Linked DNA regions of Homo sapiens: region 2 is linked to region 1. The links come from fine-mapping of genetic effects on gene expression. A gene starts in region 1. The other region holds a variant in brackets. All regions are shown on one strand. Distances are from middle to middle. Region 1 holds the start of CHST15 (carbohydrate sulfotransferase 15). Region 2 overlaps CHST15 (carbohydrate sulfotransferase 15).

The links. PIP is the estimated chance that this variant, and not a neighbour inherited with it, causes the effect.
Region 2: its variant is fine-mapped to the expression of CHST15 in whole blood (TOPMed, PIP above 0.99).

What each region holds. Positions count from the first base shown.
Region 1 is chr10:124,092,009-124,096,394 of GRCh38, forward strand. It overlaps CHST15 (carbohydrate sulfotransferase 15), which reads right to left and starts at 1,590. Exons shown (of 8, transcript NM_001270764.2): 1 at 1,461-1,590.
Region 2 is chr10:124,036,335-124,040,720 of GRCh38, forward strand. CHST15 (carbohydrate sulfotransferase 15) reads right to left here. Exons shown (of 8, transcript NM_001270764.2): 5 at 2,181-2,337. Among named protein-coding and RNA genes, the nearest start is that of CHST15, 55 kb to the right of the region's middle. The variant T/C (reference allele first, on the strand shown) is at 1,783.

The DNA of each region.
Region 1 (4,386 bases):
CACACACTCGCGCGCACGCCGGCCCATCGGTTGCCTGGAGGAGTCGGGAAGGTGCTTCCACGGCTCTTCATTCATTTTCCCAAAGGCAAGGTTCCCTTCGCCCCGGCGCCTCTATCCTGCCATCCCAGGGGGCCAATTGCGCCACAGCCCGCCACCCAGCCACCCACAGCCACCGCGTCCTATCTCCCGGCACACACAACCCAACAGACTCGCATTACATCTCCACCGCCAGCGTCGCCTCCGCGCCCCGGCCGCTGCCATCCGGCTCCCCAGCTTCGCCGCCCCGCAGCCCCGGCTCCCCGCCTCTGGCCTCACCGCGCGGCTCAGAGCTGCCTCGCTCGGCTCGCCGCACCAAGGCCGGCCAGAGACGCCGCCACCGCCGGGAAGCGCCGGCAACTCCCGAGTCACGCCGCCTCCCGAGACGCGGCGGGGCGCAGGGAGGGGACAGCAGTGGGGGCGGGGCGGGGAGGAGGAAGGAGGAGGGGGCGGGGAGCAAAAGTTCACACCGCTCGGGGCTCAGCCGCTCCCCTATCTCTTCCCAGGCCCGCCCCCGCCATCCCCCTTCCCTGAACCGGGTCCCACGGGCTTAGGCGCGGGAGAGCTCTGGCCTCCCCGCCCGGAACCGCCGCAAGGCTAGAGCCAGGGTTCTGGAAGCGCATCCGAGCTCGCAACCGGGGAGAGAGTGGCGGATGCCCACTTACCTGCCCCGGGCCGCGCCTGGAAACTTCCCCAAAGTGCGATAGGGGTGTGGGGGCGGAGCGCAAGGCTGGGGGGAATCCCCGTCCCCTACCGCCAAACGACGCGCGCTCACACCGTGAAAGCACTGGTCTGTCCGTCGGTCGGTCCCCCGCCTGCGGCTCCCAGAGCTGGGCGGTGCAGGGGCGCCCCGATTCCGACTACTGGGCTCCTTCTCCCGGACAGCCCGCCGGTGCGTTCCACGCGGCTTGCGCCCCCCGCCGGCCTCCGGCTATCCACGGCGCCACCACGCCACTGCTCGGTCCCCTGTCCCCTCGCTCCGGCCGCGTCCTCTCTGCGAGGGAGGGGGCGTGTGTCGCCGCTGGGTAACCCTTCCCGCGGGGTCCTCAAGCGCGCAGGGCGCCCGGAGCGCGGCCAGGACCAATGGCGAAGGGACTCCTCCCGCTGGGGATCGCTGAAGCCTCGGGGAGGCCGGGCCAAGGAGCCCGGGGCCCAAACCTGCCTCGGCTCGTCGAGCTCGCAAGTTCATTGTCTGCCTGGGCCGCCGCCGCCACCGCCACCGCCACCACCGCGCCGGGAGCGCCGCGGGGAGTGAGGCTGCGCGCCGCCTCCGCCGGCCCGGACTCCCTACGCCCAGCCCCGGCCGCCGCCGGCGCTGCCTGGCCCGAACCCGCGGAGGGGCGCCGGAGCCCCGAGCCCAGGGCCAGACCTCCTACCGCCGCTCCTCGCCGACCCCACCTCGGCGTCTGGCACCTAACTTGTACCTGAGAAGCCTGAGTCCAGCCCGGGAGCCTCTGCGGCTCCGGCTCCGCGGGAGCGCGCCCAGCCCCGAGCCTCTAGCCCCGCATCCAGGGCGCGTCAACCTGACTCCCCGAGCGCTGGGAGGAAAAGTTTGGGAGTGACGTGCAGACGGCGAATGAAACATCCGAGGAGAACCCTCCCCCCGCCCCATGTCGCGCTGACACACATCAGCTCCAGTCTGGAATGTGAGATCAAGGCGTGTGCGCCGAGCGGTGGGTTTGGCCCCTGCCCCCTCCCCCTCCGAGTCAACACTGCTTGTGTGTTGCGGTGATTCCAAATAAAAGCACATCGAAACCCCTGAAATCTGGCAGTGACACCTTGCCAGATACTTCTTTTTTTTAAAGACAGAGTTTCGCTCTTGTTGCCCAGGCTGGAATGCAATGGCGCGATCTCGGCTCACTGCAACTTCCGCCTCCCGGGTTCAAGAGAGTCTCCTGCCTCAGCCTCCCGGGTTCAAGAGAGTCTCCTGCCTCAGCCTCCCGAGTAGCCGGGATTACAGGCATGCGCCACCACGCAAAATAGGCTAATTTTATATTTTTAGTACAGACGGGGTTTCTCCATGTTGGTCAGGCTGGTCTCGAACTCCCGACCTCAGATGATCCGTCCGCCCCCCCAACCCAAAGTGCTGGGATTACAGGCGTAAGCCACCGCGCCCGGCCGCCAGAGACATCTTTAAGGAACTTGGCGGTCTGGAGCCAGCCCGTACATTAATATTCAAGGCCACAGCGCTGGTGAGTTCGGCGCCCTCTGTTGTATTTTTGCATCCCGGGAAGGCTGGCCCGGCTCTTTGGCCCGGCGTGTTTTGCTTCCGCGGGGGAGGTAAAGCTCTGCAGGACCCCGATCGCCACGGCCTGCCGCAGTGGCCTGGAGTCGGCTGCCCCAGGGAACCACCTGGACAGCCCGAGGGCAAGAAAGCGGCACCAGTGGCCGACTCCACTGACTCTGGGCTGAAGATGCCATCAGTTAAAGAAAAGACACATGAAATTCTGGCAGATTCGCTCAGAGGGCGCTTGGAGCACCAAGCCCAGCCTCTCAGGAAACTGAGGTCCAAGGGACAAAAAGAATCTGCAGTCTCTTGCCGGCCTGTGTCCCCGTGGCCAGAGTCCAGCACCCTCTTCCTCGAAGCAACCAGAAGTGGAAATGAAAGTGCTCCGTTAACTGTAGACTACATGCCACCGAAGGGTCATTCCTGACAGTGGCTTCTCCCCATTATCTCTTTATTGCCGGAGGCTTCATCTCGCCCCCCTGAAGCTACAGTCCACCCTGAGGTCATAAACTTCTGCTCAGCACCCATGGCAACTAATGCAGAGGTCACCATCAGAGGATTATAACTGCAGATGGGAAACCGGGATGAGAGGGGAGTTCTTTAAAATCCTGTCTTGTTTTCCTGCAAATAATGCCTCTTACATAAAATCTGCGAAGAAAGATGAATGCAGCAAAGAGACTTGCCTTAGAATCTCAGACTAGATTGCTTTTTCCATATAGACTCCACTTAGTGATTTTTGTTCTTTATTTTTTTTTTAAACAAAAACCTATTTCTGAAAATACAACGAGCTGCTTTTTGCAGGGTTCACAATTCCCAATAGATGATGATGCCATTTTTCAAGGTCTCACACACGTTGTGGCTTTGGGGCTTATTTATTAGCTCCCAAGAAAAGCCTGCCTTTCAGTGAGGTTTATATACTCGAGTAATTGCATCAGGGGACACAGAGCAGGTTGCTGTTAAAGAGGGTTGGTTGTACATGCGTCTGCAAGGAAGGCCCTGGGCCAGGCAGCTGTCAGACCAGTGTGCAACGGGTTTAAACAAACACAGGGAAGGGTCTGTGGAAACAGCAAGGAGGAAATCCCCTTCTGTAAGGGTGTGTGGAACATTATTCCAGGGCCACACATACTGCCAGGGAATAATGCCTTTCCTCTCCTCCCTCCAAGTAAACACATAACTCCGTTATGGAGATGGCGCTGGGCCCACCCAGATCACTTTCAAATTCAGGTGTCAGAAACCACGGTTGACATGGAGCAAAATTGTTTTTAAGTAAAAATCACGGTGCCGCTTTGATATGAATTCCACCAGGGACTTTCCAAAGGTATTTATACACGTGCCTGAGATTAACTAGAAGGTGATTTTTTTCCTTTCAACCTTAATTTCAAAAAATTACCCAAGAATTGCACTTGAGCCTGTTACTGCAGAGAATTGAAAGAACACCCAAATGCCAGGTCCCTGTGGATGGGTGGAAGGATAGACAAATAAATGTGTAACTGCAAGAGAGGTTGATACCAACATGGTATTAGCAAGTCACGGCTGAAAAAAATGCAGATACCGGCCAAGCACGGTAGCTCACGCCTGTAATCACAACACTTTGGGAGGCCGAGGCGGGTGGATCACTTAAGGTCAGGAGTTCGAGACAAGCCTGGCCAACATGGTGAAACCCCGTCTCCACTAAAAATACAAAAATTAGCTAGGCGTGGTGGCGCAAGCCCGTAGATTCCCGGGAGGCAGAGGTTGCCGTGAGCCGAGATCACACCACTGCACCCCAGCCTGGGTGACAGAGTGAGACACCCTCTCAAAAAAAGAAAAAAGAAAAAAAAATGCAGATACTTTCAGAAAATAAATCCCCGCTTCCCGTGTGTGCACTCTAGGCCCCCACAACTGTGGATTTAAATTGCCTGGGTTCAAATTCTACTTCTGCCACCCACTAGCTGAGCAACCCTGGGCAAGTCACTTCTTTCCATGCCTCAGTTTGAGGCTTCTGGTAGCACCTACGAGCAGTCAATTGAGCTGTTGATCCCAACTCCTCACTCTCCCGTGGTGGTTATCACACGTCTGCATCCTTGTCACAGCCTTCCAGTGCAGGGACTGTACTTCCCCATTCCTTGACTTTGGACTTGCTT
Region 2 (4,386 bases), 56 kb before region 1:
AGTCAGTGCCTGCCTCAGAACAGAGTGGAAGAAGTCCTGGGCTGGGAGATGCAGAGAGCAGGGAGCGAAACCACACCTGGCACCTGCTAGAAGGCATGGCACCGGGACAGCCACCAAGAGCTCAGGCTCAGAGCGCTGGGGCTGAGGGAGGGCAGATCCAGCCTCTCCCTGACCAGGTCATACTCAGAGCAGCGGGAGCCATGCAGACTCCACAAGAGGGACATCAGCTCAGAAGTGTGACCAGAGCAGACTTTAAAGCATGTTTCTGGGGGGCAACAATGCAAAGTGAAAGAAGCAGGACATAAGACTGTCCTGTCACACCCATGTGCACACACACACACACACACACTTATTTGCATAGAAAAGTCTGGAAGAAAATACACCAAAACATAAATAGTAGTTATCTAGGTGAGAAATTAATAGTTTGAAAACAGTTTTCCAATATATGTTCCAAAATTTCCACAACAAACACGCCTTATTGTTATAATTGGCAAATACGTGGGGCCAGGAAGGTATGCCACCTGAAGAAGGGGTCCCAGGGGTCAGTTTCCCGGGGCTGCCAGGACAAATCACCACGAACTCGTGGTGCGTAATGACAGGACTTTCTTCCCTCAGTGTCCTGGAAGCTGGAGTCTGAAACCCAGGTGTGGGGCAGAGGTGGTTCCTCTGGGATGCCAGGGGAGAATCTGTTCCACTCCTCTCCTGGCTTCTGGTGGCTGCCGGCACTCCTTGGCACCCCTTGGCTGGTGGCAGCATCACTCCAGCCTCGTCAAGAGGCATGCTCCCTGTGTCTTAGGGTGGGTGAGGGTCTACCCTGATCCAGTATGACCTCATTTTAACCGGAGTGCATCTGCAAAGAAAGATCCTATTTCCAAATAAGGTCACAGTCATACACACTGGGGGAGACAACTTCAGCTTATCTTTTTGGGGGGCACAATTCAATCCATAAGAAGATGTAGTTGGCCCAAAGGAAAATAAGACACAAAGGGCTGTGGTCCCTGTCTTTAAATATCGCCAGCCTCTCCTGTTTTGGAAGGATTAGACTTGGTCTGTCTGACTCTATGGAGAAGAAAGAGGACCAATGAGTGGATGTTTCCCCAAAACAGACCTGGTCTCAAAATAGGAACACAGCTGTCCTAAGCTACACTGGCCATCTTGCGCGGAGAATTCCCTGACTCAGAGGGCCTCGGATTAGACAGGTGCCCCCTTAGCTCTGATGTGGAAGTATTGGAGGGAGCACTGGACCAAATAATTTTCAGGTCCTGGCAGCCCTGAGATTCTGCATTCACACAGGCATAAATGATGCAAGCAGTGCCCAGTGCCAGCCAGGCCGCCCCATAGTGGCTGTTCAATATCCCACTACCCTGGCCTCACCCACACTGGGAAACCCTTGATCTTAAAGCAAAGCTGCTCTGCTCAGCATTGTTCTTCCTTTTGGTCTCTCAAGGAAAGCTGGAAACTGTACATTCAACGCAGACAAGGATAAAGGCATCAACCACGTGGAGAGACACAGAATTCTAGGAGTTAAACCACGTGGAGAAGCTTACACCCCTGATTCTAAGGGTGTTTCCCTCGCCTTGACAGTACCAAGGAACCGTCCTGTGCCCCTGGTCAGGCCTGCTGGGGCTGAAGTCACACAGACCAGGATCAGAATGGTTAAGAAAACCATCTGCAACATGTGTCAACTCAGTGGGGACAGCCTCAAGAATAACACTTACGTAAGAAACAGCAGTAACGTTGCAAGTTCCGTTTATTTTTGTTTGTTTTTATTTTATTTTATTT[T/C]TTTTTTTGAGATGGAGTCTCACTCTGACACCCAGGCTGGAGTGCAGTTGCACCATCTTGGCCCACTGCAGCCTCCGCCTCCTGGATTCAAGCGATTCTCCTGCCTCAGCCTCCCGAGTAGCTGGGACTATAGGAGTGTGCCACCACATCTGGTAATTTTTGTATTTTTAGTAGAGATGGGGTTTCACCATGTTGGCCAGGCTGGTCTTGAACTCCTGACCTCAGGCGATCCACCCACCCCGGCCTCCCAAAGTGCTGGGATTACAGGCATGAGCCACTGTACCCGACCTGTTTAATTTTTTCTAAAGGAGACAAAATCTTATTTGTCATGAGAGGGGAACACTGTTCTTCAAAAGTTCCTCTTCTCACCCCAAATACAACACACAGAAACTGCTCACCTCTCCACAGGGTCCCTGAGCATGACAATCAGTCTGGCATTTGGCTGAAAGGCGTGGATGAAGTCCTGCGTCAGAAACGGTGGCTCGCCATCCGTGCTGTTGTCGTAGAAGAACGTCCAGGCATTATTATCCCACATCGTGGAGGCACTGGCCTCCCCTGGAAACAGAAAACACTCCAAGTGAGCAGGGGTGTGATTCAGGCTCCCACGGAGTGGCTCTAGGTGCCAGAGGCCACACCTGGCCCCGATGCCTTCCTCTTAAGCAGCGGGAGAGGCCAAGCTGTCAGCCTTTGCGGGCATCTGGGACTCCAAAGAGAGAAGGTTGGATGCCCCCCCCTGCCACAGCCACACCCCACCTCCACCCCAAAAACTTCTGTCTGGAAGTCCAGGCGATCCATGCAACACTGAGTGCCCCCACCCCTGAGCTCCTCTTTCCAAGGGGAGCAAAAATGAAACCTTCCCTAGCACCTGGGCCCCCAGTTTCACAGTATTTAACTTTGCTCACAGTGCACAGCTCTGTGGCATTTTAAGGGCCCACTGAGAATGCAGTCTGTCAGAAAAACACGCCAAAACATAAACAGCAGTTATCTAGGTGGGAAATTATAGGTGGTTTTGAAAATGGTTTTCCTGTATAGTATTCCAATATATGTTCTATACAGTAGATGGTTCTAGTAATAATAGATGGAGTTCTCTCTGAACTGGGGGCCCAAGATGATGAAAGGCCTTGACATTTCTGCCCAGGATCTAACAAAGAGAAAGAGCTGGGGCAGAGCTGAGCCACATTTCAGAGCCGGGAGGAGCCGAGAACTGGTCTAGCAGACCAGGAGCCTGGAGCTGGTACTAGATGATTTCCTTCCAAAGCGTCAGGAGAAAGGAGGAGGGTGGGAACACTAACCCTTATGAGGAATTTGAGTGTGATTTCCTTCCTTGAAGCTGTAACTGTTCATCACAGAGCATACTCTAAGACTAAAAGAGAGAGGGGCTTTGCCACAGGGCTCACACGCCCTGTCTCCTGCGAGGCGACTGCTCTGCACGCAGCTGGCGCCTACTCAGTGCAGCCTGGGTGAACGGGAACTGGGTCCCAGCCAGTTTCACATTTCATCATGGTCCTCACGAGTGAAGGATGTAAATGGCAAACACACGTCCCAGCACAGAGGTGATGCCAAGACACAGGCAGGCATTCCAACAGCACAGACTCTCTCAGAGGATGAAGCCAAATTTCCTGAGGGTTTGAGGAGAGACAGTGTGTGTGCGTGTATGTGTGTGTGTATATGTGTGTGTTTAGGAAAAAGGAAATTCATCAATCAGCTCTACACTTGATTTCCTGACAGTTTGCCAAGGACCACAGGACACATCTGAAAGTTACTTATCTGGGGAGAGACTGAGCCAGATGACTGAGTCTCTTTGGTCAGTGACAAGTGTATCATATCCCTGCAGGCCCCTATCATTTCTGTCGGATGCGTAATCACATCCAGGTGAACAGCTCTGTTCTGGCCTTTTGTTCTTTCTTTTTTTAAAGAGATAATACCCTAGGATACAGAAAAAACGAGTCAATCAGAAGTCCCTTGAAAATTCTACTCACAATGAATAAGAATATAAAGGACAAGTGAACTCTCTAGCTAAATTGGCACAAATTCTGTCAGATCTCAAAAATGAACTGGTTTTAGAGCCATGGAGGCGTTTGTCCATCCACCTGACTGTCTTCCTTCCATCCAGCCACCATCCATCCTTCGTCCATCCAGGAAGCATTAACTTAGTGTCTAATCCGTGCTCAGCATTGTGCTTGGCACCAGGGACAGATCAGGGGAGGAAAGCACGGCCCCTCCTCTCTCGGACCTTAAGACATAAGGGGGACGATGGCAATTCAAGAAACAAAGAGTACCACGATGGGTACCTGGGAGTAGAGGCAGGAGACTTTCAACATGTCTAAAGCTCCGGCCTCAAGTTCAGCCATCACGTTCAGGCCACTTGAATCCTGAACCTCTTGTGTGACTCTAGCTGTCAAAAAGACAGCAGAAGAAAGGTCCTCTCTGACCTAGGGGCCCAAGATGATGAAAGATCCTGCTGTTTCTGCCCCGAATCTAACAAAGAGGAAGCGCTGGGGCAGAGCTGAGTCACATTTCAGAGCTGGAAGGAGTCTAGAACTGACCTGGTCCAACAATCCCACTTTGCAGAGGTGCAGACAGAGTCCAGGAACAGGAAAAATG